2 separate regions of the Homo sapiens genome follow, and region 2 is reported to be linked to region 1. The links are microRNA targets in miRTarBase. Many come from high-throughput screens and were not tested one by one. Region 1 holds a microRNA gene; the other region holds the end of a gene's coding sequence.

Region 1 (4,245 bases):
TTCTACTTCCTTTTCACATTCAGAGATCAAGAATGACTTTATCAAATGTCTTATTGAAATCAAGACAAGCTGAGCACATTATATACTCCTACCTCTGCCAGTCTCATAACCTAACCAGGAAAAGAAGTGTATGATACCATAGAAGGATTAAGTAGTTCACTGTTTGTACCACTTTGTTAAATAACCTTCTTTATGCAAAGGTACAAAAGTTCCACACACACAGACACATGCACAAACACACATGCACGTACACACAAGTACTTGTAACACATATTTGTTTGTTTTTAAGTTTCATGTAACATCCAAGTTAAGAAAGCACAGTTAGGTCTACTGGTCTAAAACAGAGATCTAGGAATTATCTCGTTTCTTTGACCAATACAGATTACTACCTTTGCTATTTCAATGAAAAAAAAGGAAAATTCAACTTTAGTAAAGAGTTTTAAGTATTATTAGAGAATTTCACTGGGCAAATTCTAAACAGAGGGTTATTTATAACAAACTCTAAGTATTCTAAACACATATTTTGGGCTGTTTCAGCTATCTAGAATTGTGTTGAATTTAAATACTAGAGATGTAGATGGAGAGAGGTGATATGGGTCTAGAAAGCAAATCATTTTCTGGCTGGATGCTCACACCTGTAATCCCAGCACTTTGGGAGGTTGAGGCAGGCGGATTGCCTGAGCTCAGGAGCTCGAGACCAGCCTGGGCAATATGGTGAAACCACACCTGTTCTAAAAATACAAAAAATTAGCTGGGCATACTGGTGTGCACTTGTAGTCCCAGCTACTTGGCAGGCCGAGGCAGGAGGATCCCTTGAGCCTGGGAGATGGCGCCACTGCACTCCAGCCTGGGTGACGGAGCGAGACTCCATCTCAAAAAAAAAAAAAAAAAAAAGTATTTTATGAACACCAACTTCTAATACATTTACTTGTATATCATGTGGCAGCAGACGTGAGAATGTGGAAAGCTATAAGGCCTGGGACACTCAGTGCAGGCAGCCTTGGCCTCATCCACAGGGCCTCCCACCACCCCATGTTGAGAGGTGACATAATCATGGTGGCAGCAACAGTGGTCACTGCACACAAGGCACTCTCCCAGCTGCTTACAGTCATCACCCAGTTAATCCTCACAACAACCCGCAGAGGTGAGTCCTCCTGCTATTCTTCTTCCACATAAGAAACGGAGCCTTGGGAGCCTTAAGAGCTTCCCAAGTCACAGAGTAGTAAGTGTGGCAGAAGCCCCCAAGCCCAGATGCACCTGCCACCAAGGCCTATGCTCTCAACCACTGGGTTTGTAAGGAAAGTATATAAAGATGATTGCCTGAAAATAATTAAAATAACAAAGTTTGGGGTTTAAGTTAAAGGAATAAGCCTTTGTTCTCATGGAAATCACTTCCAGGAAATGTCTCATGTCCTGAGCTAAGTCAGTCTCATGTCCTGAGCTAAGTCAACAGGGTGCTAACAGATTGTCATTGGAGGAGAAGCTTTGTCATTCTACTATTGAAAGCAAGCCCTTTACTCTGAAAAGCACAAGCATAAAAATTAAATCTTATTAATACACAACGACAGTTAAACTTGGCTATACTTGGTACAACTTAAGCACCAGATTTTACCTGGTGCTTAAGTTATACCAAATATGCCAGGCTTTTAGAAATGGGCATAACTCTTTTGGCCACGGCATCACTGAACTCCTCCATTTAAGTAGAATGTGTACAACTGTGCCCTGAAACTGGGCCATTATTACAAGATCTCCCGAGAGGAAGAGTCTTGCCTACAACTGGTGAGCCTCCTCATCTTCTTCCTCCTGACTTGGTGACCAGGCAAGCTGACAGACACTAGGGAGGATGGAGGCGACCACGTGTGGAGTGCAGAAGGCGCATACCGGAGGAAGGTGAGGGATGTTCCACAGATACATGGAACAAATCACATCATTCATGATTTTCAGTATCATCCAACTCTATATAGTTCTGCCAACCTCAACTCTGCACTGAGGAAACACTTTAAGTGAGGAGGATCTTAGCAATGAGTAGATTTTCATCAAAATTAAAGATTTCTGGGAAACAATAGCACCTTATAAGAAATGAAAAAAATAGTATCCTCAAGCACCCAAATCCCAAATACTGGGTCAGATGACAGATAGACACATTTTCTTGTCTGATGCTAACAAGAATGGAAATCGAGCCCCCTGTTTTACACAGCAGTGGCGTTTAAATAGACTACTTTTCTGCATTATGAAAACAGCCTTTTAAAGACTCTTTAAAGTTCAAGTTGAGTTTCAAGTAATCAGTTTGCAGCAACTCTAGGAGAATTATTATTCCTCCTGGTTGTAAGTGCTTTTTTTTCTTTTCTTTTTTTTTTTTTTTTAAGTAGTAAAATGGAAAACAGGCCTTAGAGAATTGTATTCCTCAAGGCCTCTGACTGCCTGCTTCCAAGCTTTTGTTAAAGAACAGAATGTGTTGAATTCTTCTCAATTGGCAGGGGATCAAGCACAATACTACATAATGAGGTAGCTGAGAACAGAGTTTTTCCTATAAACACAAAGAACAACTGAATAAGTGCATGTAATTCTCATCCAATTAAACAGGAAACATGATAAAGCAAGTTAGTACAGTTGTATTTAAACCAAGTTGACTGGTATAACTTGAAAAAATTTAACCCAAGTTTCTAAGGTATGCCTTATTCATAACTGATGAGTAAAAACAATAAAAATAAGGTACCCAAACCTATTACTTGTAATGAAATGCTAAAAATAAGATCCTAATAAATATAATTCACCAACCAGAAGACAGATGAACCTCCGTTTGGGATGTGAATGATTTGAAATGGCCGTTCATTTACGTGGATCCTATTCAGTGTCTACTCGTTCACTTCATCTTAAGGCCGTGTGTCCCCCGGACTCTGTGTGTTGCCATCCTTTTCCACCTGTTCCTTCTCTAATTCATATCACGACTGTACAATTTCTGGTTTTCTTTCAATGTGTGCACAGAAGGAAGCTCAACAACTTTGTTGAGCCAGGAAGAAATTATTATCAACATTTATAATCAGGCCAAATTTCAGCTGAGTAGTGACTTTAAAAGAATTAGTTTTAATCTCAAAATAAAAAAAAAAAAAGAGGGCAGGCGAGGTGGCTCACACCTGTAATCCAGCACTTTGGGAGGCTGAGGCGGGCGGATCACGAAGTTTAGGAGATCGAGACCATGCTGGCTAACATGGTGAAACCCCGTCTCTACTAAAAACACAAAAAATTCGCCGAGTGTGGTAATAAGCACCTGTAATCCCAGGTACTGGGGAGGCTGAGGCAGGATGATTGCTTGAACCCAGGAGGCGGAGATTGCAGTGAGCCGAGATCGCACCACTGCACTCCAGCCTAGGCGACAGAGCGAGACTCCGTCTCAAAAAAAAAAAAAAAAAAAAAAAAAAAAGAGAGGGCAACAGTCATTTCTGACTAAATAATTATATAATGTAGTTTTATTTATTTGATGTTTAATTTCATGAAAAGGGGAAGGGGTTTAAAAATCCAATCACTTAGAGAATTTCAATGACAGAACTGAAAAAGAACAAACTTTCTACGGAGCGTGGTGGCTCATGCCTGTAGTCCCAGCTGGGTCTCCACATCTGAGGCCAGGAGTTTAAGATCAGCCTGGGCAACAGAGCAAAACCCAGTTTCTAAAAGAAATTTAAAAAAATAAAATAAAATAAAAAAGAATAAACTTTCCTAAACTGTATACATTAGACCAAACCATCTGGAAGTATGATTTAATTCCTCAGATGTCACATAAATGGAACTATTACAATGAGACAATATTGAAATATGTTTAAAATGGAAATAATAATAGGGTTCCTTCTGAAAAACACAAAACTTTACCAAGTTTTACCAGCTAACTTGCAAAAAATATAGAAAATGCCTAGCAGTCAATACCACTGAGACTTAACTGCCAGCAGGCATGACAGACACTCAATCCAAGTCTGTGTTATCAAATATGGGCAAATGGGCCCCTTCTCATCCTTATACTATGAATTTCTGTAATTTCTCAAAACTACAGACAGAGTAAAGAGTATTTCAAGAATTATTAAAAGCTATCAAAATACTTTCCTCAACATTCTAAGACATAGTTTATTTTCCCTTACTAATTACATGGAATAAGAGAGGGAAGTATACATGAAGCTCTTTGAAATAAAAAAACAGTTTCTCTTTCAAAGAAACTTTCTTCTGTTCTTACGACCTTAGTAAATAAATTCTTAACCT
Region 2 (4,110 bases), not on the chromosome of region 1:
TTTTTTTCTACCTTTAAAATTGTTTAAGTTCCAAGTAATTTTATTTTTGGATGTTATATATATTCTTAACTTTTATCTCTACAGATATTTTCTGGCAAGTTTCTATACGAAGTATGATCCAACTCACTTCATCCTAAACACAGCTTCTCTCCTGAGTGTACTAATTCCCAAAATGCCACAACTACATGGTGTTCGGATCTTTGGAATTAATAAGTATTGAAATGTTTTGAAACTGAAAAAAAATTTTACAGCTACTGAATTTCTTATAAGGAAGGAGTGGTTAGTAAACTGCACTGTTTCTGTGATAATGTGAAATGAGAAGTATTTACATTGGAGGGCCAATGGCTGGTCCTTCAAGTGCTGTTTTGAAGTGCAGATTTCCATTAAATGATGCCTCTGTTTAATACACCTGGTACATTTCTGAAGAGGGGCTTTATAAGCAGGCTGGGCAGGCCCAGCTTATAAGTTAAAGGGCATCACAGTGAGGGTGTAGTAGATAAATTCAAGGAAATAAGAGATTTGTAAGAAACTAGGACCAGCTTAACTTATAATGAATGGGCATTGTGTTAAGAAAAGAACATTTCCAGTCATTCAGCTGTGGTTATTTAAAGCAGACTTACATGTAAACCGGAATCCTCTCTATACAAGTTTATTAAAGATTATTTTTATTACCGTACATATTTCTCGTTTTATGTAAGCGGATGTATATCCTCTTGTTTTATACAAGCCAGTTCCCACTTATGAGGGTACTTTTTTGGTTTTGCTGGCTTAATATTGTGTATTGGTCAATGAGGCCATTTTTACATTTATTACGTTACAGAGTTCATGGAGGTTCACCTTTGTGACTGATTGGTGATAAAAGATAGCCAAGTGTCTTACAAGCAGCTTCTGAGTCAAGTGTTCTAATTTTGGAACAAAGCAGGTTTTACTGCTTTTCCAGACACAAGGCTGCTAAACCAATTAAGAAAATAATTAATTTCTTTCAAGCAACTAAAAAATATATGGTAATTTAAAGGTGTCTGCTTATTTGGTTGAACAATTTAATTGGGAAAGTTTGTCATCATTTGAAAAAGGAAATATAAAAGGAACAACCATATAGCCAACCTGTGGTCTGGCAGAAACAACGTCTCTAGCAATAGTACCAAAGTAAGTAATGGAGTCTTTTTTTTGGCAGGTCTGCAGTAAAAGATAACATTTTCTTTTCTTAGTCCTCCTGCTCTCAACCCCCATATTTTGCCTTTGAATACGTGGGTTTTAGTATATATAGCCCAAAATGGTAACTGTCTCCAGAACAGCAACCACATTGAATTCTTGTGACTTAGGAAAGCTTCTTATAGTTGCTGACATTAATTGCAAGAAATAACTATATACTACTTTGAGAAGTAAACATGTCAAAAAAAACAAAGTTCAGATATGGGACAAAATTTAAAAATTCAGTAACATTTATAAACAGAATTGAATGAAAAGAGTTACAGACCAACTTAAACATCAATTCGTGTCAGTAAACTGACTTTTGGGGGTAATGATCATTGTTTTGTATCTCAAAAGTATTGAGTTTAGAAATCAGTTGTATGATACTACCTTTGTATGTCTGTCTTTTCCCGTGTATTTTTAAATAACTGGTGATCTATAATTTAATAAAATTTTTCGTTGGTGTAATATTATTTCAAAAGCCCTCCAAATTTAGTCATCAAAATTAAAATGACATTTTTCAAGTTTATTTTTAAGCAACTGAATTCGTAAAATTAAAGTAACAAAAAGCATTCATTTTTCTTTATTTTAAAGTTCCTCTCAAAAGGCTTACATTTTTTTAACATACTTCAGAGATAGAAGTCTCCCTCTTAGACATGCTTTCTTCACTGCTTTCTCCCGTCAATGTTTTAAAAATATTTACTCAGTAGATATTTGAAGGGCCCACTCTGTAACAGGAATTATGTTAGGTATTGAGGATAGTTTGTAGACAAGAAAAACCAACTCCCTTCCCTTTGGTGCCTACATTCCAGTTTAAAACAAAATCTAAAAATGACTATTACTTGGAACAAAATAAATTGCCATGCCATAAATGCTCCTGACTTCAAGTCAGGAGACATAATGGCAATTTCTAAGGAGTCATGAGCTTAGAAATGCCACAAATTTTAGCATTCATTGGTGGATCTTTCTTGCAGCAATTACTATTGTGGAGTTCTAGTGATGATTTTCTGTTTCCCTTATTCTATAATTATTTATTAGAATCTTTTTATAAGGAAGATTTGTCCCTTCTTTATTTACTTATTAAATCACTTATACTCTGGGCTTATGGATATTTCATTCTTTGGGTTATAATCCATTATTATGATTTGTTGCTCAAATTGTCCTCCAGCTTTGACCATTAGGAGCTCTTACAAGCTGACTGCTGTGTCCCTTTGACCTGCCCCCATCCTTTTTCTAGGTTTATGGTGTTATTGTCTATTGAATTATAAAGATCCTAAGAGGCATAATAATATCTCCTTCACTAATACCTATATGAATTAGCTTATAGAGCTATATGAGGCTAAGTTAGAGAAGCCCTTAGACACCATGTAATTCAACCCCCTGCCTTAACTTTTTTTTTTTGAGATGGCTGGAGCCGGGTTTTTTTTGTCGCCCAGGCTGGAGTGCAGTGGCGTGATCCCGGCTCACTGCAACTTCTGCCTCCTGTGTTCAAGCAATTCTCCTGCCTCAGCCTCCTGAGTAGCTGGGATTATGGGCGTGCACCACCATGCCCAGCTAATTTTGTATTTTTAGTAGAGATGGGATTTCACCATGTTGGTCAGGCTGGTCTCAAACTCCTGACCTCAAGTGATCTGCCCGCTTCAACCTCATGTTGGTCAGGCTGGGATTACAGGCATGAGCCAACATGCCGGGCCCCCTACCTTAGCTTGAATCTTTATTAATTACCACCCTTCCATTTAGTTCTGTTTTAATAATAATATTAATAGAAGAGGACTTATAAGACAGTATATTCTATTTTTGTAATAGAATTTACAATTTGTTGTATATCGAGTCAAAAATCTAATCTTTACATAACTCTTCAAGTATTTAAAGATAACTTTTAAATTGGTGTCAACAGCATGGAATAAATATTACTAGAGCCTTCACCATTTTCCATATGATATGGTTTCAGATTTCTCCCACTATCCTGGTAATTCTGCTCTAAGTTCCAGTTTATTACTTATTATATAGCACAAGAGTTAAATACAAGAGGTGATCAGATATGCTGTGAAAGAGTACCACTTCCCCTGTTCTGGATGCTTTTTTTTAATGCTGCCTAATACCACTTTAGTTTTTTATTTTGACAACCACATATCACTGATTCACTTTATGTCACTAAAACCTTAAATCTTCAATATGTAGTGCTGTTAAATTATGGCTTACCCTTCACATATGAAATTGATTTATTAAACCAAACTCTTAAGACATTTTTCCTATAGAACTCCATCTTGTTAGATTTTAGTTTATTGATTCATCTTGTCTAGCTAAAGCTGAATCTTGATTTTCATGCAGTATATTTCTCCTGTGTCTTCTATATCATATATGTCATCAGTAAGTATCACCCAAAAATAGCCTCATGCTAGTCATGAAGAACACAAATGGAGTAACCCAGTGTCAACCAGTGCAATTTAATAGTCTTTCTAACAGGATAGACAGAAAAGAGTAATTCCTAAAACAATAACATGGATAGTACATGTCGATGTGAGCAATGTGAACAAGTTCAGTACTGAAAAGACCTATCTAGGTAAAATACCCTAAAAGGAGGTTTGGAGTAGTGCAGCGCAGGGAAGGGGAAGGTAAGTAGAATAGCAGAGATAAACTCTCCTTTGTTGTGTCAAAAAGAAAAGAATGAGATGTATCACATTTTTATTTTACTGCCTAATTTCAGTTCCAGGTAAAAAAGATCCAGTGATGTAGCAAGTAGTTTGTTATGTTGGGTTTAAAAATTTTCATATAGCTACAAATGAATGCATGAGAATTATAAGCATCAAAGTCAGAATCCTGAATGTATCAAGTATATAGGACACAGGGCTTCAACTGTATTGGATGATTTTATCTCAAGTTGAATGTTGGCCTCACAGAAGTTGTTTATAGTATTTA

The links. Region 1 holds the annotated microRNA hsa-miR-4720-3p (UGCUUAAGUUGUACCAAGUAU, at 1,581-1,601, opposite strand). A microRNA usually pairs through its seed, bases 2 to 8, with sites in the 3' UTR of a target mRNA and lowers its output. Matches are read on the target gene's strand: a 7mer-m8 pairs with bases 2 to 8, a 7mer-A1 pairs with bases 2 to 7 and ends in A, and an 8mer does both.
Region 2: miRTarBase lists ORMDL1 as a target of hsa-miR-4720-3p. The part of its 3' UTR that is shown has no 7-base or 8-base seed match.

What each region holds. Positions count from the first base shown.
Region 1 is chr16:81,382,419-81,386,663 of GRCh38, reverse strand. It overlaps MIR4720 (microRNA 4720), which reads right to left and starts at 1,646; the gene lies at 1,571-1,646. It overlaps GAN (gigaxonin), which reads right to left. Exons shown (of 11, transcript NM_022041.4): 11 at 1-4,245.
Region 2 is chr2:189,767,877-189,771,986 of GRCh38, reverse strand. ORMDL1 (ORMDL sphingolipid biosynthesis regulator 1) reads left to right here. Exons shown (of 5, transcript NM_016467.5): 5 at 85-1,720. The coding sequence ends at 220. Among named protein-coding and RNA genes, the nearest start is that of OSGEPL1, 7.1 kb to the right of the region's middle.